Regions from separate parts of the Homo sapiens genome. Here region 1 is linked to region 2. The links come from fine-mapping of genetic effects on gene expression. A gene starts in region 2. The other region holds a variant in brackets. All regions are shown on one strand. Distances are from middle to middle. Region 1 overlaps DOT1L (DOT1 like histone lysine methyltransferase). Region 2 holds the start of SF3A2 (splicing factor 3a subunit 2).

What was found. PIP is the estimated chance that this variant, and not a neighbour inherited with it, causes the effect.
Region 1: its variant is fine-mapped to the expression of SF3A2 in visceral fat (GTEx, PIP 0.99).

Annotation. Positions count from the first base shown.
Region 1 is chr19:2,175,494-2,190,103 of GRCh38, forward strand. It overlaps DOT1L (DOT1 like histone lysine methyltransferase), which reads left to right. Exons shown (of 28, transcript NM_032482.3): 2 at 5,220-5,263; 3 at 10,362-10,436; 4 at 14,239-14,302. Among named protein-coding and RNA genes, the nearest start is that of DOT1L, 19 kb to the left of the region's middle. RefSeq lists enhancers at 5,197-5,780, 7,253-7,412, 7,603-7,692. The variant A/C (reference allele first, on the strand shown) is at 8,915.
Region 2 is chr19:2,228,313-2,240,006 of GRCh38, forward strand. It overlaps SF3A2 (splicing factor 3a subunit 2), which reads left to right and starts at 8,512. Exons shown (of 9, transcript NM_007165.5): 1 at 8,512-8,589. DOT1L (DOT1 like histone lysine methyltransferase) reads left to right here. Exons shown (of 28, transcript NM_032482.3): 28 at 1,473-4,266. The coding sequence ends at 1,480. PLEKHJ1 (pleckstrin homology domain containing J1) reads right to left here and starts at 8,017. Exons shown (of 6, transcript NM_018049.3): 1 at 7,843-8,017; 2 at 7,611-7,678; 3 at 7,450-7,516; 4 at 5,838-5,928; 5 at 5,686-5,749; 6 at 4,841-5,593. The coding sequence starts at 7,936. The coding sequence ends at 5,528. It overlaps MIR1227 (microRNA 1227), which reads right to left and starts at 5,837; the gene lies at 5,750-5,837. It also overlaps MIR6789. RefSeq lists enhancers at 6,242-6,821, 6,824-7,432, 8,041-8,649, 8,228-8,277, 11,420-11,694 and silencers at 7,458-8,087, 8,698-8,797.

The sequences.
Region 1 (14,610 bases), 51 kb before region 2:
ACCAAGTATAACTGGAATATTATCATTTTATCATGTAATTAAAAAATTGTTCTGGCTGGACGCAGTGGCTCACGCCTATAATCCCAGCACTTTGGGAGGCTGAGGTGGGTGGATCATCTGAGGTCAGGAGTTCAAGACCAGCCTGGCCAACGTGATGAAACCCCATCTCTACTAAAAATACAAAAAATTAGCCAGGCGTGGTGGCTGACGCCTATAATCCCAGCTACTCAGGAGGCTGAGACGGGAAAATCGCTTGAACCCAGGAAGTGGAGGTTGCAGTGAGCCGAGACTGCGCCATTGAACCTGGGAGGTAGAGGTTGCAGTGAGCCGAGACCACACCACTGCACTCCAGCCTCGGCAACGAGCAAAACTCCGTCTCAAAAAAAGAAAGGAACTCCCACACGAGCTGGAAGCCAGCACTGGGCTCTTCCGCACAGAGGCTCCCACCCATAGACCAGGAGTACGAACCCAACCGTGCTGCTCTAGACATGGGCCCTGGGATGATCACCCAACCTCTGTGTCCCGGCTCTGCCTGTCCCCTGGGCTCTCCAGGAACAGGTCTGTGCTGGAAACGCCTCTTGGCCGAGGCTGCTTTTACTAGACATCCACTCTCAGTTGGGGGTCCTCCAGGCCCTGCACACCCACCCACCATGAGAGGGAATGTCACCGCTTGGCCTTTGGGATTCAGAAAAACCTGGTGAAGTCTGCACAAAGCCCTGTCCCCCAGCCCTCGGTCCACACAGCATCCCACACCACAAGGCACCTCTGGACAGGAGGCAGTGCGAGCAAGAGGGGACAGGGGCAGTAACTCGGGGTGCACTGCCTGGTGGGGACACTGTCTCCCTAGCTGTGAATGACAGGGAATGAGGCACAAGGACGAAACAGGCGTGGGGCAGAGGGCACGGCTCGCGGGAGTTGCAGAGCGAGTTCACCCTGCTACTGCTTCTGCGGGGCACTCATTTTTAGAAGTACACTTACGTGGCCCCCAAAATAATGTCACGCTGCCAAGGAGAGCAGGCAAGGGCAGGTGACACCGCTGTCAATCAGAGCATTTCCAGCCCTCACACCTGTGAGTCATCTGGCTCCCAGGAACATTCTCTGTTCCAGTAAGGCCTGCGCCTGTGAGAAGCGCTTGGCTGAATCCTAGGAAGGGGGACTTGGGCCGACAGCCCCCTCCAACCTGCGCAGCCTCAGGACACTCAAACCACAGCTGCAAACACTGCCAGCCAGACATGCAGCTCCCGCGGCCACCACTTTGAGACAGCGACTCCCTGTGACAAGAAAACTCTGAAACCAGGCGAGGCAGGGCCCTCTGTCAGATGATCACTGGGGAAGACGCTATGGACAGACAGGAACTTCTGGGACCACAGCAGGCTGGAATTCCAGCTTGAGGAGGGAGAGGGGAACCCTGCCGTGGGCCCTGACAGTGAGCAGGAGGAAAGGGGTCTCACAGAAGCAGGACCCCGATATGAGGGAGCAGGCCCAGCACCCCTTCCTCCCGCCCCCAGCCCCTATCCAGAGAGCAGGCTGGCCCTCTGGGTCTCGCTTCAGATGCGTAGAACCCAGTGCTTCCGGCTGCACCCTGCAACATCCCGCAGCAGTCTGTGGGGGTCCGCAGGAAGAAGACTCCCCCGTGAGGGGGAGCTCTGTGGAGCGGCACTGTCCTGACGGCAGCCACTAGCCACTCGGCTGTGGGCACCCGACATGTGGCTGGCGGGAAGGAGCTGTGCAGAGCACAGAACATACAGGAAACGACCAGGTGTGCTGCACTCGCCCCACACACGCAGTCAAATCACGCAGGAACAATTTTTTTTTTTTGGGAGAAAAAGTTTTGCTCTTGTCGCCCAGGCTGGAGTGCAATGCCGCGATCTCGGCTCACTGTAACCTCTGCCTCCCGGGTTCAAGCAAGTCTCCTCTCTCAGCCTCCCTAGTAGCTGGAATTACAGGCACCCGCCACCACACCCAGCTAATTTTTGTATTATTAGTACTACTAACAATTTTTATATTATTAGTGGTAATAATTTTTGTATTACTAGTGATAGAGCTAATATTTGTGTTATTAGTATTCGCCACGTTGGCCAGGCTGGCCTCGAATTCCTGACCTCATGATCTGCGCCCAGCTCGTGTTGAAGTTCTTTAGCCACCTTTGAGCAAGGGACCCTATTTTCACTTTGTCCGGGGCCTGCAAGTTCTGCCTGCTCCCTCGCCAACCCTCGCCAGCCCTGCTCTCCGCTCTGCCCAGCCCCGGCTCTTGCCTCCTCCTATTTCTTTTTCCTTTTTTTTTTTGAGCTGGAATCTCACTCTGCTGCCCAGATTGGAGTGCAGTGGTGCGACCTTGGCTCACTGCAAGCTCTGCTTCCTGGGTTCAAGAGATTCTCCTGCCTCAGCCACTGAGTATCTTGGATTACAGGTGTGTGCCACCACACCTAGCAATTTTTTTTTTTTTTGAGATGGATTCTCACTCTGTATCCCAGGCTGGAGTGCAGTGGTGCAGTCTCAGCTCACTGCAACCTCTGCCTCCTGAGTTCAAGTGAATCTCCTGGCTCAGCCTCCTGAGTAGCTGGGATTACAGGCACGCACCACCATGCCCAGCTAATTTTTTTTTTTTTTGTATTTTTCATAGAGATGGGGTTTCACTGTGTTAGCCAGGCTGGTCTTGAACTCCTGACCTCGAGTGATCCACCCGCCTCGGCCTCCCAAAGTGCTGGGATTACAGGTGTGAACCACCATGCCTGGCCATTTTTTTTTTTTTTTTGGTATTTTTTTGTAGAGATGGCGTTTCACCATGTCTTTGGGAGGCCAAGGCAGACAGCTCACTTGAGGCCAGGAGTTTGAGACCAGCCTGGCCAACATGGTGAAACCTTGTCTCTACCAGAAAAAAAAAAAAAACAAAAAATCTCCAAAACACACTTCACTTTGAAATTTTTTTTTTTTTTTTTTTTGAGACGGAGTCTTGCTCTTTTGCCCAGGCTGGAGTGCAGTGGCGCGATCTTGGCTCACTGCAAGCTCCGCTTCCCGGGTTCACGCCATTCTCCTGCCTCTGCCTCCCGAGTAGCTGGACTACAGGCACCCGTCACTACGCCTGGCTAACTTTTTGTATTTTTTAGTAGAGATGGGGTTTCATTGTGTTAGCCAGGATGGTCTTGATCTCCTGACCTTGTGATCCACCCGCCTCAGCTGGCCTCCCAGAGTGCTGGGATTACAGGTGTGAGCTACCGCGCCCGGCCACGCCCAGCTAATTTTTTCTATTTTTAGTAGAGACGGGGTTTCACCTTGTTAGCCAGGATGGTCTCTATCTCCTGACCTCGTGATCCACCTGCCTCAGCTTCCCAAAGCGCTGGGATTCCAGGTGTGAGCCACCACGCCAACCCCTAAAGTGGTTTTAGACTTAGAAGAAAGTTGCAAAGCACCGCACAGACTTTCTATGTGGCTTTATTTCATCACAGTACCCTGATCCGAACCAGGAGGTGGACGGAGCTGTGGCCTCAGTGGCATATACGTCCCATCCCATCATTGCCATGAGCCCTTGTGTCTCCTGTCTCCCCTATCTAGGCTGATCCCTCAGTGCATAAGGAAAGCTGGGGGGGGGTCTCCTATGGTCTGGCCTTTGGAGGAGAGCCAGCTGGGGTCTCTGTGTGGCACCCCTCAGTCAGGCTTGGCTGCTTCTCTCAGGGTTATACTGAGGTTCTGCATCCTGGCAGGAGCCCCACAGATGGGGTTGCGTCCCGCTGGGCCTTGGGAGGCTCGTGGCGGCTGCGTGTCTCACTGTGATGACGCTGGCCTTGTGTTTCGTCAGGTGGTGTCCACAGGTGCCCTGCTGGTTGCTTTTTCTCTGCCCTGGGAGAGGCTCGCTGAGGCTGCACGGCTGCCTGGGAGAGGCTCGCTGAGGCTGCACGGCTGCCTGGGCGGCCTCTGACGCGCCCTGTGGACTGCAGCATCCAGGGGATCGCGTCTGCAACTCTTATTGCTTTGGCGTTTACCTATTGGGGATTTAAAAAAAAATTGTTCATTTTTATAAAAAAGACATGGGCTGGCTGGGCACGGTGGCTCAGGCCTGTAATCCCAATACTTTGGGAGGCTGAGGTGGGCGGATCACCTGAGGTAAGGATTTCGAGACCAGCCTGATCAACATGGAGAAACCCTGTCTCTACCAAAAATACAAAGTTAGCCAGGCGTGGTGGCTCATGCCAGTAATCCCAGCTACTCGGGAGGCTGAGGCAGGAGAATCCCTTGAACCTGGGAGGTGGAGGTTGCAGTGAGCCGAGATTGCACCACTTCACTCCAGCCTGGGCGACAAACAAACAAACAAACAGAAAAAAGACATGGGCTCTCGCTGTTTCCCAGGCTGGCCTCGAACTCCTGGCTCAAGTGATTCGCTCCCTGCACCCAGCCTGTTGTGGGTTTATATCAGCACAGTAGCACGCAGACGCGACGAAAGTGCACGTGTCCTGGTGGCGTGCACTTGGTCTCTGATTCTCGGTGATGGGTGTGGAGTCGGAGAGGCTTGGGTGGCCCTGCTGGGTGTGAACCTGCCTTTGACATTGGCCTTGTAGAGGGAGCGAAGGGCAGGGTGCTGGACGGGGAGGGATCTGTGTTAGGCCAAGGACCTTGGTTTTAGTTGTGGCAGGTTCTGGGCTATGGCGAGGCCGCCCACGTGGGCTAGCCCAGTGGTTTTTTTCCCATGGTACAGTTGGGGAAACAGGCCCCGTGGAGGCTCTATCACCTGCGGTCACATACCAGGCCTTTGCCAACGCAGGACTCCCAGCCAGGCTGGAGCTCCCTGGCTGGAGCAGCGTCGGGAGAATTCCCGGTGGGCCTGCGGAGCGCGGTCTGAGGGACTTGGGCTGTGTTGAGGGATCAACTGACCTCCAGGGAAAAAATGGGGAGACATGTGGAGCGGAGCTTGGGGCGGCCGTTTGCTTTAGGGTGGGAGAGGAGCAGGACCGGGGGCCATAGACTCCATCCCAGGCCGCTGCCTGCTCGCTGCCTGTAGTAGGACACAGCGTGCCAGAATAGGTCCCCGGCAAGGTCTGTGTTCCCTTCGTGGTCCAGGGTCTGGGAGTGTCTCTGGTGGTACCCGCTGGGTGGTGGGCTTGGGAGCTGCACCAGTTGGGAAATGAAGAGATGGGAAGTTGACGGCATCGCTTGTCCGGGAAGAGAGCGATGGGCTCACGGGGTGGAGGATGGCTCTGCGTCTCAAACTTCTCTCTCTGTTTCAGGATAAACATCACGATGCTGCTCATGAAATCATCGAGACCATCCGGTGAGTGCACGGCCTGCAGTGTGTTGTCTTCACAGCCCTGAGCCACTTCCGTGGACACCCGTGCCCTGCAGATTCTGTTGTGGGGATGGCTCCTGCAGGGGTGGACTCCTGGAGGTGTTGTGAAGCGGATCAGGGGTGACTCAGGGACGGGTAGAGCTGCTTCTCCCAGCTCCATTCCTGGCCAGTGGGTGCAGAAGTCTTGAGCTGCTGGGGTGTCCAGTGGGTCCTCCAGGGGCGTTGCCCTGCCTTCCTCTGTCTCCTTGTCAGTCTCCCTGCTGTGGGTTTTGGGCCGACCTTCACCCTCACGCGCCCTCGACGGCCTCCTGTGTCTGTGCCCCATGGGTGCAGAGAGGAGCATTCTGGGGGTGACTTGGATGGGCAGGAGGCGGAGGCCGTCCTGTCCTCGTAAGCTCCAGCCTGGGCTCCAGGATCTGCAGCAACAGTGCAGGGAGGCCCTCTGGGTGCCTCTCTGCTGCCCACTGGGAAGCTGCCCATGGTGGCCGGCATTCTGCGTGTCTCAGGTGCTCAGGGTCAGAACCCTCATTGTGTGGCACCTGCACGGAGGCCACATGTGTCCATGTGGCCCTGGCGTCTTGCTGGTCTGTTCCTTAGCATACTGGGCTGTGAGGACACCGCCCGTGCCCATGCCCAGCATCTGCCCAGGCCTGCAGCTGCCATAAGGGCCATGCTGAGCTCCTCTTGGCCGGGTGGCTCTGTGCCAGGCCCCTAGCTCCTGAGGCCCTGTAGTTCAGTGTTGGGGCCCAGCGGCACCTCCCTGGCCAGGTTGTTTGAGGATTAAGTGAAATCGTTTGTGTAGGTCGGCCAGGGTGGGCCTGACCCAGGGTCCGTGCTTAGAATGTGGGATCTGCTTTTTTTTAATGTCATGATCCGTGGACCAGGCAGTGGAGTAGGGGCCCCTCTGTTCTTTGTAAAAGAAGTCTGGTGTTATGGTTGGAGGGAGGGCTCTGGATCAGGCAGCTGGACCCCAGCCCAGCCCCCGCCCAGCACCAGCCCCAGCCCCAGCCCCAGCCCCAGCCCCAGCCCAGCTGCAGCATGCTTCTGGCGGCCAGCCGCCTCTCTCTGCCTGGGTTTCTCTTGTTGCAGCTGGGGGCCAAGACTCTGCTGGCGTGGGCCTCTGTGGGTGCTCCTCACAGAGGGCCGGGCAGTCTTTTTAAGAATGCTCAAGCTGTGCACGGTGGCTCACGCCTATAATCCCAGCGCTTTGGAAGGCCAAGGCAGGGAGATCGCTTGAGGCCAGGAGTTCGAGACTGGCCTGGGCACCTTGGGGAAACCCTGTCTCTACTAAAAAAAAACACAAAAATTAGCCGGGTGAGGTAGCAGGTGCCTATAGTCCCAGCTACTTTGGAGGCTGAGGCAGGAGAATAGCTTGAACCCAGGGGGCGGAGGTTGCAGTGACCCAAGATGGTGCCACTGCACTGCAGCCTGGGTGATAAGAGTGAGACTCCATCTCAAAAATAAATAAATAAATAAATAAATAATGCTCAGCTGGGCATGGTGGCTCACACCTGGAATCCCAGTGCTTTGAGAGGCTGGGAGGGTTGATCACTTGAATCCAGGAGCTGGAGATTGGCCGGGCAACATAATGAGACCCCAAGTCTACAAAAAAGTAAAAAATTAGCTGGGCATGGTGGTGCACACCTGTGGTCCCAGCTACTTGCGGGGCTGAGGTGGGAGGATCACTTGAGACCAGTGGCGCTGTGATTGTGCCACCGCCCTCCAGCCAGGCAACAGAGTGAGACCCTGTCTCAAGAAACAAAACCCAAACAAGAAAGAGTGCTCCAGGGCTGTGGCTTCCCGGGGCTGTGACTGTGCAGGTTCTGCCAGTGCTGCCCAGACGTGGTCTCTCTGGGTTAGGATCTCGGTGCAGCAGGGGTGGAAGCCCCTCTCTGACCAGGCGCTTGCTAGTGTGTCTGGAGGTGCTCAGCAGCAGGGGAGCTGCACCTGCTCCCCATGGGAAGGGGCCTGCACAGACTTCTGGGGTCAGAGGAGACCCCAGGCCCCCGGATCTCAGGCAGTGGCGGTGAGAGTGCCTCTCTGGCTGCATGCTCGCCTTCTGCAGGGCTCGGAGCTGACTGTCTTGTTTGAACCTTGTGTGTTTTCTGGGGAGCGCATCTGGAGTCTGGAGCTTAAGCGTTGTAGGGAGCAGGGTCCAGGCACAGGGGCGTGCACCAACACCTGGGCATCCGCGACGTAGGCAGAGACCTCGAAACTCGAACCCCCACCACCTGGAGAGGCTGCTTTCTCCCGTGCATCCCCAGCATGTGGCCAGGGTTCTCACGGTGTGGCTGCACAGACCTTTTCTGTCTCACTTCCTCTAGAAACACCGACGACGTTCTTACACAGCAAACACCATTCAGTCCCCATACGGCCAGTGTCCCAAGCACGTCCTCCCACAGTGGTGTTGTTTTTTTGAGTCAGCGTCTGGCTCTGCTGCTCAGGCTGGGGTGCAGTGGTGCCATCTCAGCTCACTGCAACTTCCACCTCCCAGGTTCAAGCAATTCTCCTGCCTCAGCCTCCCGAGTAGCAGGGATTACAGGTGCCTGCAACCACGCCCAGCTAATTTTTGTATTTTTAGTAGAGGCGAGGTTTTGCCACCTTGGCCAGGCTGGTCTCAAACTCCTGGCCTCAAGTGATCCACCCGCCTCGGCCTCCCGAAGTGTGGGGAGGGCTGTTGTTTAAAGATGATTGGGCTGTCCTAGGCTCTCCTCGTTTGGATGTCCGTTGAGAATCAGCCTTTCCATTTCTCCAGAAAAGCTAGCTGGGCTTTTTCTAGAAATTGGTTTGAGCCTGCAGTTCAGCTTGGGGAAAGGGGCGTTTAAACAGTGTCACTCCCAGGTATTCCTGCTTCAGTGCTTTTTTTTTTTTTTAAGGCGGAGTCTCACTCTGTTGCCCGGGCTGGAGTGTGGTGGCGCATCCTCGGCTCCCTGCAGCCTCCGTCTCCGGGGTTCAAGTGATTCTTCTTCCTCAGCCTCCCGAGTAGCTGGGATTAGAGGCGCCCGTCACCATGCCCAGCAAATTTTTGTGTTTTTAGTAGAGACAGGGTTTCACCATGTTGATCAGGCTGGTCTCGAACTCCTGACCTCGTGATCCGCCTGCCTCGGCCTCCCAAAGCACTGGGATTATAGGCATGAGCCACCACGCCCGGCCTTTGGTGCTTTTTTATGTGGCATTTTGACAATCCTTTGCTGCTAGTATGTGTAAAGACTGCTCCCTTTTGCCTATCGGCCATGCCCCTGCTGAGCTCTGGCGGTGTCCGCGCGTATTCCTCAGCACGCTCTGTGGCGCAGAACCACGGGACTGAGTGAAGACCGTGCGGCCGCTCCTTTCAGGCTCCTTGCTGCTTTGAGTGTTTTTCTTGCCGAGTTGCGCTGGCCGGAACCTCCTGGACAGTGTGATGAGAAGTGACTGCAGATGGCCTTGCTTGGGTTGCTCTCGGGGCCTCGCTCGGTGCCTGGGGCTTTTGATGATCTGCATTGTGAGGTCCCCTGCCGGTGTTGGCCAGGTGTGCAGGCGTTGACCATGCTGGGGACGGGTGACGAGAGGCACCAATAATCACAGAGGGCGGATGCCACAGCCCTTCTGACAGGATGCTGTGTCTTTCAGTGTGGAAGGGTCTTGGAGGGCACCCGG[A/C]CCTGAGGTCAGGTCCTGGCCAGCTGGTTGGGGAGTCTGGGGACTTGGCGTGGGGTAGGGGGCAATGAAGCTACTCTCGGAGTTCTGGGAAGCTGCCCGCTGGACTTAGCAGGTCAAGAGGACTGGGGAGCAGAGGCCGAACCCCCATCCCTCCCTGACCCCTCCTGCAGAGCCGCAGGCCAGGTGGCTGCGGAAGGTGGGCCTGCTGCTGTCACAGCGGCTCAGTGACTGGTCCCGTGCCCTTTCCAAGCGGAAGGCGTGTCCTTCCATTTCTGGCCTCTTGGAGGGTACCGTCCTGATGGCACCGAATGCCGTCCTGTGGGCTTTCCGTACTCGCCCACACGGGGCTGCTCAGATCTCCGTCCTTGTTCCTTCGGTGAATTGCAGTGACTAATTTTAGAGTGAAGCAGCTTTTCCTCCCCAGGAGGTGCTGTGTGTGGTTGTGAGGTGCCGCTGCGGTTTCCTCACGTTTTTAAGGGATAGTGGGGTGTGTTGGTCAGGGATGTTGGTCAGCTGTTGCCTTTCTTGTCCTTTCTTTCCAGCCCTTTGCGTCTCTATGGTTTTGGTGTCAAGATGACGCTGGCTGCATAAAACTCTGAGAAAGTTTCTGTAGGTTTAGTGTTTGTCTTGTCAGTGTTTGATGGAATTCACCAGTGTGTTTTTGTATTTTGTATTTTTAGTAGAGACGGGGTTTCTCCATGTTGGTCAGGCTGGTCTCCAACTCCTGACCTCGTGATCTGCCCACCTCGGCCTCCCAGAGTGCTGGGATTACAGGTGTGAGCCACCGCACCCGGCACCAGTTGGCTTTAGTTTCTAGTCAGTCAGTTGCTTTTCGAGCTCTGATGTGGCCAGTGGGTCCCTAGACCAGCCCTGTAGCAGATAAGTTCACTTAGGTCCCCAGAGCCACTGGTGTGTGGCCTCGAAGCCACGTAATACCTGTGTGATTCAGTAACAGCTTCGTGGTAAACATCGTAGCCTTCGTTTTGAAGTCACGCCTCCCTTCTCTCTCCACTTTGAGTGGAGGGGTAAGGATGTTTGTTTTCTGTTGGAGAGGATGCAGTGTTTAAGAACATGCGGGGTAATACTCAAGATTGTTTACACCTGTCATCCCAGCACTGTGGGAGGCTGAAGTGGGCGGATCACTTCAGGTCAGGAGTTTGAGACCAGCCTTGCCAAAATGGCCTAACCCGGTCTCTACTAAAAATACAAAAATTAGCCAGGCGTGGTGGTGGGCACCTGTAGTCCCAGCTACTTGGGAGGCTGAGGCAGGAGAATCGCTTGAACCCAGGAGGCGGAGCTTGCAGTGAGCCAAGATCACGACACTGCACTCCAGCCTGGGCAACAGAGTGAGACTCCGTCTCAAAACAAAAACAAAAACAAAAACAAAACACAAAACAAAACAAAAAAAACCAAACCCTTCCTGATCGTTTCTGCTGCTGTGTTTCAGATGGGTCTGTGAAGAAATCCCGGATCTCAAGCTCGCTATGGAGAATTACGTTTTAATTGACTATGACACCAAAAGGTAAGCAGAGTCCTGTCCAGCCGCTCCGCTCCGAGGACAGACTCGGCTCTTGGGGAGGACAGGAGGACGCATCCTATAATTAGCTCTTCTTAGATGGTGCAAGCTGATCTGAAATTTCCTTTTAGAGTTGGCCGTGGCCACCATAAAGTTATTTTGGTAGGAAATGTTTATCAACTCTTGGCAAAGGCTGTCAGAGGCCGGACAGAATTGGAAACTCCGGTTGTGGAAAGTGGGATTGGCATGTGTGGAGTCAGCCCGCGCTAGTGATCGCTCTTTTTATAGCGGGCGGCTGACGGCCAGAAGTCCGCGTTCCTGCCTGAGGCTGCTGGGAGGGCCTGGGCGGCCTTAGGCTGCTTGGCAGCTCTGTTTAGATCTCAGCTGGGTTTGGTTAGTCCCTCTGTCTCCAGCCCTGTGGCTGCGTTAGCAATTTCGCCCTGGCAGCTCCTGGGTCTCGGAGGAGGGTCTTGTGGGTGGAGAGGGGCAGGGCTGTCTCTGGAATGCTTGCTTGGAAGTGTTTTGTTTTTCTTTGACAAGGAAGACATTCCAGGCTCATGCCTTTTTCAGCTCTTGAGTCTGAAATCAACAGAGTAGTCCTCCATCAAGGGCTGTGCTGTCGTGAGCTTAGGTGAGCCCCTCTCCACAGAGAGTCAAGCCCAGAGGGCCACGCGGCTGCACTTTACCTGGCTCTCCGGCCTCACTGGCATGTGGGAGGGACTCTTGTCTGGGGTCAGCGGTCTCAGCCTCAGTAAACCTCGAGATCCTGTGCCCCTCCCTCGAGCCCTGCCCATTCCCTGGTCAGCACCCTGGTGCCCCACAGGCAGACAAGCGTGTTGCTGGCAGGGTCCTGCGTGCCGACCTGCTGCTGTGGATTTCACGCCACCTGCCTCGCATGTCGGGGCCTCTCGCCACCCCCCCTCATTGGGCGTGATGGTGTGCTGGGCCCTTCCCTGGTTTAGTATGAAGAGTGTGATGCAGCGTGCAGATCAACAGCCGCATGGCAGGGTCCACAGGGAGGGGCCTGCAGGGCCCTGCACAGAGCTCTGTGTCCGTGGAGTTGGGGAGCACTAACCCCAAAGCTCTGCACCCTGTGCTTTCGGGTTTTCACGGAGGCTTCTCGGAGACTTGCTTGATGATTGCCTCCATCTCCAGTCCCCTCTTTCTAAGCTTCTTACCGCAGCTTGGGCTTTACCTCACCCAGGAGCCCCCCACAAGTCGCTTCCTTACAACAGAAGACACTCCTGTCACCTAGAAGTTCCCAGGGATCAGGAGCTTTGTTAGGAACTAGAGTCCCCTCGGATGAGTGGGTGTTGTCGGGCTGAGCCCTTTCACATTAACCTGGGGCAGTTATGGCACCTCACTTGTGTGTGGCCAGCTTCTGCCTTGGCTCTGAGCAGCGAGCGTGTCAGACGCTGTGCTCACGGCGCCCCTCCACGTGGGTGTGTGGCGTCCTTCCTCTTCGCGTGGGATGGGCTTAGCCAAGGCTGGAAGGACATCAGGGACAGGCTGGGCAGGGGGTCTTCGTTGGAGCTGGCAGGGCCACCTGAGGGACCGAGCCATTAGGGCTTCAGACCAAGGACAGCCCCAGCTCCTCTGAGCACCTGCATTTGCACAGCCTGCCAGGGAAGAGTCTCTTCCCAGGAGCGTGCAGAGGTGATTTTGGGAAGGTCTGGTTGTCAGGGTTGAAGGCGGCGTGTAGAAGTGGAAACACAGGGGCTGGGCACCGTGGCTCACACCTGTAATCCCAGCACTTTGGGAGGCCGAGGCGGATGGATCACGAGGTCAGGAGATCGAGACCATCCTCGCTAGCACAGTGAAACCCCGTCTCTACTAAAAATACAAAAAATTAGCCGGGCGTGGTGGCGGGTGCCTGTAGTCCCAGTTAGTCAGGAGGCTGAGGCAGGAGAATGGTGTGAACCCGGGAGGCGGAGCTTGCAGTGAGCTGAGATCGCGCCACCGCACTCCAGCCTGGGTGACAGAGCGAGACTCCATCTCAGAAAAAAAAAAAAAAAGGGAAGTGAAAAGACAGGAAGGGCCAGGGCTGCTCCTCTGGAGCTGCGGGGAAGGCGGGAGGCAGCAGGCCGGCTCTGTGGGTTCCTCCGGCCCGCATGGTGCCTGCTGGCCCTCTGCACCACCTGGGCTCCTTCCACCCCCGTGTCCTTCGTCCTCCGGAGGATCCAGGTCCTGTGTGGCCGTGCTCCCGGGGCTGTCGGCAGGCTCTTGTTCTTGGTGTTTGCTCCTCTTAAGTTCTCTTGCTTTATCCTATGCAGCTGCTGGTTAAGGAAAACATGAACTTGGCCTGTGGAGCACTGGTTTTCCTATGAGGAAGGGGAAGTGTGAACCTCGGCACATGCAGTGCCCAGGTGAATTCAGGGTGGCCAGGGCAGGGCAGGAAGAGCATGGGGCTGGGGCTGGGGTGGGAGCAGGGGTGTGATTGTTTAGCCACGTCTCGGAGCATCTGCCAGGCTCTTGGGGTTGCCATTGGGAGGAAACTGCTTGCGTGCACGTGGAGGTGGCGGAGGACGGAGGCGGAGGAAAGAGTCCCCAGCCGCCGCCCCCCCCCCCCCCACCCGCACAGGTGCAGGCCCCCTCGGCGCTGGGGATGTGGAAGTCGGATTGTTCTCTGGGAGGGGCCGTCCTGGGCACTGCAGGGTGCCGAGCAGGGTCCCTGCCTCCATCTCTTGCTTGCCTCGCCACATTCCTGGGGTCCCCGGTGAGAGCCACTGTGTGTGACAGTGTTCACTGGACAGGTACGCCTCCTCCTCCTGTCTCTTGCTCTGCTCTGGACACCTTCTGAGGTGGAGGGACAGACGCTGTTGTCCACATTTTGCCAGTGGGTCCAACAGACTTGGAAGATGAGCAAGTTATCCCAGGTGGAGACTGGACAGACTAGGCCAGGCAGACCCCGTAGCAGGCTTGCCCCCACCCCGGAAGCCCCTCTGAGCCCAGGCCTGGCTGGGCCGCGTGGCCGGTGTTTCTTGTGGCTCACGTGCCCCACAGACAGTGGGCACTCCCTGGAGCACAGGTGCCCCCTGCCCTCTGGTGGGCTCTGCCCCGATGCTGTTGGGTTGTGGGCACTTAGGTAATGAGGGTTTGCCTTGCGGCCAGGGCAAGGAGGGCAGAGTTGCTGCGGGGGGACTGAGTCTCACTGTGGACCCTGCTGTGCCGTGTCTGACATGACACACTGCTGACGTGACACACTGCTGACGTGACACACTGCTGACATGACACACTGCTGACGTGTGAATGAGTTGGAGCTTTGGAAGGACACGCTCACAGAGCAGTGTGGGTGGGGGTGAGGCATCTTCCTTTCTGCAGTGCTCACTCCTCCTGCACCTGCCCGGGCAGAGGCCTGGTGGTCCCTGGGAGACCCCAGCCGTTCACCTGCCTCTGGCGATGGTGGCTGTCCCCAGCCAGGGCAAGGAAGACCCTCTAAGGCCGGCCCCAGGGTTTCCCACTTGGGGGGCTGGCCTCAGTCCCCCTCGAGCCCTCTTTCTCTCCTCACGCCTCCAGCACACGTGGACCTCGGCTTTGCGCGGGAGCCTGGGCAGGTCCAGACTGCCTCAGGGCTCAGTGCTTCCCTGCACCGGACTCTCGGCCGGCCACCTCGCTTGTGTGTCAAACCTGAAATCTCCTGCATCAGGGCGGAAAGCGAGGCTTCTGCCAGAAGGGTCTTGGCCAGCTGGCTGGTGGCTGTCCAGGCAGGGACCACACCTTGGAGCCTGCCTTATCCACATGCTGTCCCCTCCCATGCATGCGGCTGGCTCCTGCCCGCATGACCAGGGCCTTCCCTTGCCTTTTTCAGCTTCGAGAGCATGCAGAGGCTCTGCGACAAGTACAACCGTGCCATCGACAGCATCCACCAGCTGGTAGGTGGCTTGCCCCTGCCCAGAGGGGGTTAGTAGTGCCAGGCTCCCGGACCCCTCCAGACCCCTTATGTCACCGCCTCGGGGCACAGAGCTCCCCTTAGAGCCCCTGGGGATTGGAATGTGCAGCGTGGGGGGACGATGGGCTGTGGGTGAGTGGTGTGGGGGCTGCCGAGGCTGGGCTGTGTGCTGTGGCCGTGTGCCAAAGCAGAGCCGTCCGTGGTTTGTGTGCTGAGGCAGGGCCCTGAGGGTTGTGGTGTCTGCACACGCCTCTGCAGCCCTGGGTTGGTGTCCGCAGGTCCCAGCAGAGG
Region 2 (11,694 bases):
ATGCCGCGCACCTTTCGGGGGTTAAGCCGCGATAAAGACCTTGCTTAGCTAGCAGTGCGTATTGTGTAAGGTAAGGCCAGAGCCCTGCGCGGTGGCTCACTCCAGACACTGAACTGTCCTTCCTTTGGCAGAGAAGACGGCCACAGGGCTCGGCAGAAGTTCCGGGGGTCCTGAGGAGGGAAGAGGGAGAGAGCCAGGGAGACCAGGGAGATGGTCGCGAGAGGAGGGACTACAGGACGGGCACCAGCCATGGAGTGGCCTGAGTGTGTTGGGTTCCAGCTGCCCGCAGCTGGGTTCCTGCGGTGACGCCGCAGGACTGAGGCCAGCCCTGGGGGCAGCTGTGCCAGCCCCTGTGGGCGAGGCTCACGGGGTGCCAGGCCAGGGGGCTGGGAGCTCTAGCTCCTAGAGCAGTCTCCAGGGCTCCATCCGCACCAGGCCCAGGTCACTCATGACGGGTGGCGTGGCTTGGTGCTGTTCCCCAGGCGCCCAGCATGTAGCAGGCACGGTGCCGGCTGCAGAGGTCCTGGAGAGCCAGGGTGGCTGGCTGGATGCCTCTGGTCGGGGCTGTCTGGCCAGTAGCCTCGGATGCCCTCATAGGGAGCCAGTGAAGCCCCAAGTGCCCTGCCTGCCTGGGGGCTGATGGGTTCCCGGCGGGGTCGAGAGGCAAGCTCTGTGCCCTGCGTGTTGAGGCCCCCTTGCTGGACACGGCTGATGGCCACACTGCCCTGTGGTCATGGCCCACAGCCGAGGGGCTTTCAGCTGCTCAGATGTCAGCACCAAGCTGGGCAGGTTAGTGTAGACGGTGCCCACCTTTGAGACCAGAAGGAAGTTGGAAGCAGGAGTGATTTTGATGATGTGAGGCCTTCAGGGAATGTCCTGTTCACTCCTCCCCCAAGAGGCTGTGGAGACTGTGGCCGCTGACCCCTGAGGGCAGTTGGCCACCCGTGCCCTCCAGGGACATGGCGTGCCTGGCGGCGTAGTGCAAAGGTGCCCTCTGCTTGCCCCTGGCCTTCTGCCTCAGGGGCCCCTGGGACACAGGCCTTCCTGGGCGAGTCCAAAGCCCACCGGGCAAGGAGAGGAGGACTGGGAGCCAGGAGCCAAGGCGGAGGCTGTGGCCAGGGCTGGTCAGCCTGGCGGGTCAATGCGGGCACCTGCGGGCTGGACAAGCTATGCTGGGTCTCTTAGGAGATGAGCTGCAGGTAGGGTGGCTTTAGCTGGACTCGGCTGTGTGTCTCCTTTGGAGGAAGGCTGGAGCTTGGCCGGCGTGTCCAGGTGTCAGGCTCCCTGGTCTGTCACGGGGCACGCCCGTCGTCTGTTGTGGTTAGAGGAGCTGGCACTATGCCTGTCATGGTGCTGGCCCCAGGTGGCGTGTGTGCTCGTGGGAGGCCTCGGTCCCCAGCCTGGGTGAGTGTTGGGCTCCCCCAGGCGCGATGGTAACCTCAGGCCGCTCTTCCCGCTGTGCCCTTCTGCAGGTAACTAGGATTTCTACCTCAACCGCGAGACCTATGCAAGGACGGTGTGGACCAACTCGCGCCCGCGGCATGGTGCCCGCCGGCCTGCCGGGCTCCCACCCCTGGACGGCAGAGGCAAGGACGGACGGGAGCTCCACTGTGAATCGGCGGCACGCGCCGCAGGAGGCTGGGACTGGTCCAGTTTGTACTGTCGATAGTTTTAGATAAAGTATTTATCATTTTTTAAAAAGTATAAACAATTCTGACTTATTTTATTCCATCTAAGTGGTAAAAGGCAACTTATTGAGAAATATAAATATCTATATATGAGAGCTCTATATAAAGACACGTGTCTGCAGGGCGGGCCCGCCAGCGGATTCGCCACAGCCTGCCCCGGTGCTATCTCGTCCCCAGGCCCGCGCCTGCCTCCACCCGCTTGGTGCTGACTAGACGCTGACAACGCCGAACCCCGTTCTCGGAAACGCCGCCCGGCCGGCTCCCCCGACGCGCTGCTCCCGTACCAAAGGCAGGCCCGTCGCCACCACATTCCTCGGAGGCCTCCCCGCGGCCTGAGCCCCTTCCTGAGCGCCCTGGCGCCTGCCCTGAGCTCTTCACCTTTACCCCGGCACTGTGAACCCCCAGACTGTTCACCCTCCGGGGCGTGGGTTGCGCCCTTGCATGTGAAGGGGCCTGCGCGGTGACGCAGCTGGCCATGTGCTGCGCGATGGTGCTGTGAGGACGGCGCGGGCACGTTGAACAAGTGCATTTACTTTTGTATTTCTCGGCTGTCCATGGCTCGCAGCATGCCCTGCGATGCGGGGCAGGCCTGTCGTGGGTCCCTTGGTGTTTCTGTACAGGAGAGAGTCACACTAATGAGTGGCAGTATTTTATAGAGATGTGATGAGAATTTATAAATTTCATAGATTTGACAGCTTTTATTTTTAGATGGTATAATGCACAGTGAAGAGGAAAGAAAAGCGAGGGGAAAAAACCTTATTTATTCAAACAGTGCACAAAATGGCCCCAGCGTCAGCCCCGACCCTAGACCCCTCAGTTGCAGCTCCCAGCAGCCCAGACAGAGCTGCCGGCGCCCCTGCCTGCCCCACATCCCTTCCTGTCAGGGCCACGCCTGGCACCCATCCCTTGGAGCCTGTGCTGGTTCTCCCAGCTGCTGTGGGTGTGCTGGGGCCAGGGTGCACTGCTGAAACCTGGCCTCTCTGGCCCTAGGCCCCAGGGTGACGTCGGCCCCCCACTCTGCAGCCTTGGCGGGTGCCTGGGACTGGGTGTGGAAGGAGAGGAGCTGAGGCCGGGGTGTAGCAGGCAGGCAGGGCCACTCCAGTGCTTCTGGAGCCCTGAGCAGTCAGGGCCTGGGTTGTCTGAGCAGTGGTGGCTCTGTGCCCTCCCTGGAGGATGGGATCTGGGAGTCTGAGCTCCCCGCATCTGGCCCTGGGCTGTGTGGCACTTGCTGAGCCCACCTTCTCAAGTGCTTGCTCCTGTGAGATGGCATCGGGGAGCCCCTTCCCCAAGGTGCCACAGATCCACCCTCCAGGGAGCTGCCAGCCCTGTGTTCTGGTTCCCAAGGGCAGGATGGACACACGTCACATCCCTACCACGTGGCCTCCAAAGGGAGCCACGGAGGAAAGGCTTCTGTGGTTGCTAGGTGGGGGAGTCCTGTGTGGGAGGGCCTGAAGACCCCTGCTTGTGCCTGGTGAGGGGGGTGCTGCCTCCCCCAGCCCCCAACAACCTCTCAGACCCCCACCCTCCAACATAGCTGAGTTCTGAAGATGGTGCTCCGGACCTGTCCTCTTAAGTGGTGCCCAGTGCCCTCCCCACCCCACGTTGGTGCTCTCAGCTAGAAGGTGCTGTGCCTCTGCCTGAGCCCCAAGCCCCGAGCCTGGCCTTCAGGACAGGCAGCCTGCTCTGTGTCGCCACGGGCCGGATACGCCACAGGGTTGATGGCAGAGACGGCCGAGTCCCTGGTCTAGAACAAGACACATTCTTTAAACACTGTATTACTTCTGCCTCCCTCTAGGTGACAGTGGCAGTCCGGGTGCCATCACGGGTCCTGCAGATGGCCATGCAGGGCTCCTGCCCACGCAGGCCACCGTATGTTCAGGACACGCACTGGGTCTCAGAGCCACTGGCCCAGGCAGAAGTCTCCTTGAGCCCACTGGGTCATATGCGTGTCACCACACGTGAACTAGTGTGGTGGCTGCCTGCGGACACCCTCCTGTTCTGAGCCCTGGGCCTGTGTTCTTCTCAGACACTCCCAGACTGAGGGGTGGTGTGTGGCGGGTGGCAGGGTGGCTGTGGAGACTGGGGATCTGGAGCCTGGTGCTGGCACCTGGCCTGAGTTTCCGTGGGCAGCTGGCGGGGACCTGTGCTGCTGCTGCTGACTGTGGGTGGGCGGGCGGCGCCTGGGAGTGGCTCTTGCTCAGGAATTGATAGGAACCCTAAAAACTAGGATACCCCCTCCTCGGCCCATGAGGCACGCACAGTGACTTATTTAAGACTTCCCCCTTAATTTATCTGCCCCCAGGATGCGTCAGTCTGTTCAGTGGTCAGCAGGCCCCCCACCCCCCGCCGACTGCCCTCGCCATCGTGGTCAGACCCCCCTCCCAACACAACACGCTGCTGGTCTGTGTCAGCCTTTGTAACGTGGGAGGCTCTGCCGTGTCTTCCGGGTGAACTGTATTTGGATTGCGCGCATTGTCACGGTCCGCCCCTGGGCTGCAGGCGCCCCTTCCTCTGGGCACCCCTGCATTCTGCATCCCCACCTCTAGACGCTGTAATAAACAGACTGTTTTCACTCGGACCTGGTGTGAATGGCAGCCTTTCTTCCAGGTGGCATGAGGCGTCTCCTGGCGGCCAGTGAGAGGCCCCGGCTAGTGTGTCATCGCCGAAACGGGGAGTGGAGGGCCTAGGGGTGCTCCTAGCAGAAGCTCCGGGGGCTGACACCAGGACACCCTGGCCTTGGGGAGGCTTATGAGGGCACCAGGCCACAGGCAAGGGGAGGCTTATGAGGGCACCAGGCCACAGGCAAAGTGCCTTTTGATGAACGGAAAACCAGATCTGCGACCCCAATGACATCGGCAAAGTCCTTTTCACATCAGATGGACCAAAGCCCGCCCAGGCCCCAGCCACACTCCGGGAGGGCCCGTGAATGCCAGAGGCAGGACCCCAGGTCACCACAGGATTCCTGATACCACACAGCAGCTCTGTTCTCCCCAGGCCTGGGTCCCAGCCTCCACCTGTCCTGGCTGGGGGTTCTAGCTCTCCCCTCAGTGCAGGAGGCCCAGCCACTGCCTCTCAGGACCCTGAGCCTTACTTCCCTTGGGTGGGGGCTCCCTGGCTGCCCCTCCCCTCTCCTTCACTTCACCGCCATCCAGTGTGGAAAAGAGGTACCTTTATTTGAACAGAACAAGCACCCTGGCCCCAGGGCAACCACTTCCCCAGGTGCACAGCCAGGGCCCTCCTGTCTGCAGGAGAATTCACAGCTGGTGTGGGACTCAGCCCCTAGGCCATTCACAGCTTTGTCTGGCTCTGTACATTCATTCAGCACGGGGCAGGGGGGCCATGCCACCAGCCTGGGGGCTCACCAGGCCCCTGGATGCACACAACTCAGGCAGGGCACCTGTGGGAAGGCGCATATCCTGGCGGCAGCAGCACGTGGCACCAGGTGCCAGGCCAGTTAGGTGGATCCTGGGGCCCCAGGGAGCGCAGCTTGCTGGGCAGTTTCATAAAATGCAGCCCCTGCCCACACCCACCTGGCTTCAGGCTTTGGATGTCTCCAAACCAAAAACCTCCCACTGAAAATCCAGGTGTGATGGCCGGGTGTGGCGGCTCATGCCTGTGATCCCCGCTACTTGGGAAGCTGAGGCAGGAGGATCACTTGAGTCCAGAAGGTCAAGGTCACAGTGAGCTGTGGCACCACTGCACTCTAGCCTGGGCAACACAGTGAAACCCTGACCCAAAAACCAAAAACCAAAACAAAACAGATCCAGGCATGGCCAAGCGATTCATGGCTGGGCAGGGCCAGTCCCGTCCCGCTGCACGCTGACCACCGTGCCCTGCGCTCACGCCTGCAAGCCACTCAGCTGGAACCTGGCCTCCTCGGATATGCCGAACTGTTCCAGGGGGTCCTGTGGGGAGGACGGGTGGCCATGAGCCAGGGCTGGAGGACTGCCTCTGCCACCTGCAGCCCCACCCCGGCCCTCTGCAGCCCTGCACACACCTTGCCCGTCACCTTCCGGATTTCGTTCCTGTAGAAGATGAGGCTTCTCCGCATGAACTCGTAGCTGGGGAAAAGGGTGGCACGGGGTCAAATGCCCGCTCTGCATGGCTGCTGTGCCCACCCCAGCAGTGCCCACCACCGCCTGGCCCCACCTGGCCCGACGCAGAGCCTCCATCCACTCCTGACACTGCTCCTCGCTGCTGCACTCAAAGTGATACTTCCTCTCAGGGTCCTCAATGAAGCCTGGGGATGGAACACCTGTGGTCGGTCCTACCCACAGCCACAAGCAGCTTCCTCTTGCCATTGCCCATAAACTGTCCCTTCTCTGGCCCCCACAAAGATGTGTTCATGTCCTGACCCCCCAGAACCCATGAGTATGGCCCTGTATATAAACAGGGTCTTTGCATATAAACTAGTCAAAATGAGGTTGTCGCCAGGTGCGGTGGCTCATGCCTATAATCCCAGCGCTTTGAGAGGCCAAGGTGGGAGGATTGCTTGAGCTCAGGAGTTCGAGACCAGCCTGGGTGACATGGCAAAATCCCCATCTCTACAAAAACAAAAATTAGCCAGGTGTGGTGGTGGGGCCTTGTAGGCCCAGCCACTCCGGAGTCAGAAGTGGGAGGACTGCTTGAGCCAAGGGGGTTGAGGCTGCAGTGAGCTGTGATCACGCCACTGCACTCCAGCCTCGGAAACAAAAGATCCTGTCTCAAAAATAAAGAGGGCCGGGTACGGTGGCTCAAGACCGTAATCCCAGCACTTTGGGAGGCCGAGGTGGGAGGATCACCTGAGGTCAGGAGTTCGAGAGCAGCCTGGCCAATATGGCGAAACCCCGTCTCTACTAAAAATACAAAAATTAGCTGGGCATGGTGGCGCGTGCCTGTAGTACCAGCTACTCGGGAGGCTGAGGCAGGAGAATCACTTGAACCCGAGAGGGGGAAGTTACAGGGAGCCGAGATTGCACCACTGCACTCCAGCCTGGGCGACATACCAAGACCCTGTCTCAAAAAATAAGCAAATAAAATAATAAAGTGAAGTAAAAAGGGGTTGTCAGGGTGGGCCCTAAATTCTGCTTGGCGTCTGTGTAGAAGGGGAAATGTGGGCACAGACGTGATGCAAGGAGGACAAGGTGACGCTTCCACAAGCCAAGGAACCTGGAGGATACTGGCCACCACTAGGAACTGGGAGATTCCCCTCGGCCTCAGAAGGATTCGGCCCCACCCACACCTTCATCTAGGATTTCTGGCCTCCAGAACTGTAGAGAATGTTTCTGATATTTAAGCCACCTGGCCTGTGGAATTTTGACAGCCACTCTGGGCAAACTAGCAGGGACTCCATCTTTCCCCGCAGAAGGGAATCTCTTAAGACCCAGGAGAACACCCCCCTCTCACTCCTCCTACCCCCACCTGGGATTTCCAGCCCGGGGCCATATAACAATGCTAGACCCATGCTACTCTTGGCAGCTGGGGAAACGCTTTGGGTGGGGCTGGCCCACCTGCCCTGTAAGTACAGCCTGGGCCCACAGGGAACAAAGAGCAGAGTCTGGGAGGGACCCAAGCTTAAGTGGACTCGGCAGGTGGGAAGGGTGGTGCCCGCCAGGAGAACTTGACCTTGAGCTGCCCGTGGACAATGCACTCTTGTGTTTGAGGAGGGTGGCGCCAGGCTGGGGACACAGAGGAGACCTTGGGCGCCCGGGGAGGGGAAAGTGCGGCGCTGCGGGTGCCCCGGGCTGCGGGAAGCGCCGCTGGCTTCCCTAGCCCCACTCACTGATGGAGAAGGTGCCGGGCTCTTCCCGGACGACTCTGCAGCGCTCCAGCAGCAGGGCTCCGACGGGCTGGAGGAGACACGGGCGCCGGGACGGGGCAGTGAGCACCCGGCCTCCGAGGGGCCCAGCCTGGGACCCGCCCGCGCGCCCGGGACGCCCCTACCTCGGCCTCGTCTGTCCGAAAGTAGAAGAGGAAATTCACCACCAGCTTCACCAGCCGCCGCTTCAGCACTGCGGGCACAGCGCGCACTCAGGGGCGCAGGCAGCCCCCGCCCGGACCCCGGCCTCCCGTCCCCGGCGCCCCGACCCGGACTCCGGCCTCCGGCACCCCCGCCCAGACCCCGGCCCCGGCCTCCCGCCCCTGGCACTGTCTCGGTCTCCCGGGTCCCGCTCACCGCTGCCCTTCTTGGGGCCCCTCATGCCCAGCTCGGCCGCCATCTCGGCCGGCTGCCGGGACAGAGCCTGCAGCTCCTTCTCGTTGTACCGCATGGCTCCGCGGGGAACGGGAACCCGGGCCGCGCCCTCCCGGCCGCCGTCCCCGCTCAGGCTGGGGCCGGCGCCAAAAATGTCTCAGGGCGCAGACACGGAAGCACCCCCAGGGCTAGTGCGCCTGCGCACCTTGGGCCAGCCATGCCGCCCGCCTCCGCTGCGTGGCGCTGGCGACCCGTGGCTGCTGGCGTGGGCGGGGTACCGGTTGGTAGGAGAGACGGACCGTTGTTACATAACCATTAAACTGAAATAAACCGGACCAAGGTGGAACAGAATCAAGGCACCCCAGCGATGGCTGGCACCCCTTTCTAGAGCGGCCAGGCGCAGGCGGAGGGAGCGATAACGTCGCCCGGAGAGTGTCAGCCGCTCCCTCGCGAAAGTTGGCCCCGTGCGGCCGCAGCGGACCGAGGGTTCGTTGAGAGCGTTGTGCGCACGCGCAGTTTGCCTTCCAGGCCGCGCTTTCAGCCTCTCCCCCTCCAGCCTTTTCCTTCGCGCCTCGGGACCCTCTGACTCACGCCGCTGGGCGGGCCAGGCATGCGCACACCAGAGGGCCCGTCTCATTTGCCCCGGAAGTGCTTTCTTTGCCCGCCGTTCGCCAAACGAAGTCGTGGAGGTGGCGAAACGAGGAGGAGATAACGCGGCCTTGGGCTCTGGTGAGGAGTAGAGGCGGTTGAGGGCGGCGGCCGACGCGGACCGGGGGTTCCCTGGGGGACAGCGGACGTAGGAGAGAGGCGCTTGCGACAGGCCGCGGGCCGAGGGTGGGGCGGCGGCGTCGCTCCCCTCCCTCCTCCCGTGAGCGTCCGGCCTTGTGCATCCTGAGGCCCCGCGCTGGGCGGGCCTGGAGGGTCGGGCCCGCCAGGAACTCTATTTCCAAACTCCTGTTGGGAGGCCGCGCGCGGGGCCTCACGCCTGTAATCTCACTGCTCAGGGAGGCCTTGGCGGGAGGATCGCTTGAGGCCAGGAGTTCGAGACCAGCCTGGACAACACACCGAGACCCCCATCTCTACAAAAAATTTTAAAAAATTAGCCAGGAGTGGTGGTTGTACCTGTAGGCCCAGCTACTCGAGAGGATCGCTTGAGCTCGGAATGTCGAGGCTGCAGTGAGCCATGATCCCACCACTGCACTCCAGCCTGGGCAACATAGCGAGACCCCATCACTGCAAAAAAAAAAAAAAAAAAAATTAGCCGGGCGTGGTTGGTGACGCGCGCCTGTAGTCCCAGCTACTCTGGAGGCTGAAGCGGGAAGATCGCTTGAGTCCAGGAGGTCGAGGCTGCAGTGAGTTGTGATTGTGCCGTTGCACTCCAGCCTGGACAACAGAGCAAGACCCTGTTTGACAAAATAAAAAAGAAACAACCAAGATTCGTTGGGGTCGAATCGGGATCGCGGCTGAAATGGTTTCGGCCGCCTTCCTTGTAGCCGAGAACGCTTCTGTATGCTCATCTATACCTGTTAGTTGACTGGGGCTCTGTGATGTAATTCCTGTGAGCCTCAGTTCCCTTAAAATGGGAGTGACGGCTTCAACATCATGCCAAAGGCGACCAGAACACGTTAGCTGGCCCCATTTTGCAGGTGCACCCCGCTGTGACCGTTGTTCTTGTGTATCCTTGGACGACACCAAACAGCCAGGCGGAGCTCTGGAAAATAGGTTGTTGGCTAGGTTAAGGAGAGAACGGTGTTGCCACGAAAAACTAATTCCTTCTCAATGGTCTAGTCCCAGGTCCCAGAGGCCACTTTTCCTCAATTCTTAAGCTCATTTCCCCTGGTCGTCATCGGTTTTTTGTTTGTTTTGAGACAGGGTCTTGCTCTGTCACCCAGGCTGGAGTGAGTGCAGTGGTGCAATCACAGCTTACTCCAGCCTCAAACTCCCATGCTCAAGCCATCCTCCTGCCTCAACCTCTCGAGTAGCTGGGATCACAGGTGCTCACCACCATGTCCGGCGAATTTTTGTATTTTTTGTAGAGACGAGGTTTCGCCATGTTGCCCAGGCTGGTCTCGAACTCCTGACCAGGTGATCCACCTGCCACGGCCTCCCAAAGTGGTAGGATTACAGGCATGAGCCACTGCACCCGGCTAATTTTTGTATTTTTTGTAGAGATGGGGTTTTACCAGGTTGGCCAGGCTGTCCCCTGATCTTTACCTTAGTAAGTAACAGATTTCTTCATGGATTTATCAATTTGTAGACATCATCTGCTGATTTCTTGTCACGGCTGTTGAGATCTTCTCCCTCCCATCCACCCACTGCACCTTCACCTTCCATATCCTGAATGAGTTTATGTCATGAGCATAGTTGGTCATTGGTTGTGTTTTCTAAATAAGATGCAAAATATTGTTGGCTGCTAAAACAAGTAATATGTTCAGCTAGGCTTTTCTTGTACCATTCTATCTTCCCTTAAAGCTAATTAACTTTGTTTTTACCATGAGCCTGATTTTCTTTTACCTGCTGTTTGTTTTTTCCCCACAAAGCTCCCACCTCTCACACACCTATCAGTTGTATTTTGCATAGGTTTAAATAAATTGATCTCCCCTCACCACTTCCCTCCAAGACCCCCTTATCCTCCTCCTCCAAATGGGACTGGTTGTGCTCTGACCTGGAAGTGGAGCTGTTGTCCCAAACCTTCCTGTCCTTGCTCCCCTGTGCTGACCTCTGTTTCCAGTGTGGTCATCTCTTTCCCTTCATGCTGTCCGAGCAAAACTTCTGGGAGCTTTTGAAGAAACAGATGATTTTTTTCGGGGGGTGGGGGAAGTCCTTGATTGTCTGAAAACGAGTTTATTTACCCTCATAGTTAGAAGTTTGGTGGGGTATAAAAATCTAGATTGAAAATCTGTATTTGTAGGCCGGGCGTGGTGGCTCACGCCTGTAATCCCAGCACTTTGGGAGGCTGAGGCGGGCGGATGACCTGAGTTTGGGAGTTTGAGACCAGCCTCGCCAACCTGGCGAAATCCCATCTCCACTAAAAATATAAAAATTTGCCAGGCGTTTTGGCATGTGCCTGTAATCTCAGCTACTCGGGAGGCTAAGGCAGGAGAATGGCTTGAACCTGGGAGGTGGAGGTTGCAGTGAGCCAAGATCGAGCTACTGCCTGGGCGACAGAGCGAGAATCCGTCTCAAAAAAAAAAAAAAAAAAAGAGAGAGAAAAAAATCTGTATTTGCTCAGAACTGTGAAAGCATTGTTTTCAGTGCTGTTCTCAAAAGATCAGTTCCTATGCTGGTTTCTGATGTTTTCTGCTCAGTTGTCTTTCTGTCTAGTAGAAGCTTAACATCTTCCTTGGTGTCGTAAAATTTCCTGATTTCCTCATTTACCGGGGATCTTTTTATTTGCTGATCCTGGTGGGTGCTTGGTATCTGGACAGTTTGGTTCCTTTAGTCCTGGGTTTTGTTTTTGTTTTTAATTTTCTTGCTAATGTTCTTATGTTATTTCTGTGATAATATTTTTCCTGTTTTATTTTGTTGGGTGTTTTTTCAGTTCTCACTCTGGAATGTCCTCTAGGTTCTTGCTTTTCCTCCTGTTTTTTTAACTTTTGACTTTCCTTTATGAAAGATTTGTTTGGCTCAGCTTCCAACTCTGGTATGGAATTTTTTGTTTGGATCGTCCTGTCTGTATTTTTCAAGGGCTTTTTGTTTTAATTCAGCTTGTCATTCAGCTTCCTGTTCTGGGTTTGTGGTGCAGTGGCTTCCCCCGATAATGAAGGAGGGTGTCAGCGATCTCTTACTGGGATACCCATCAGTCTCTTTGTTCTCGGATGCGTGTGTTTCTCT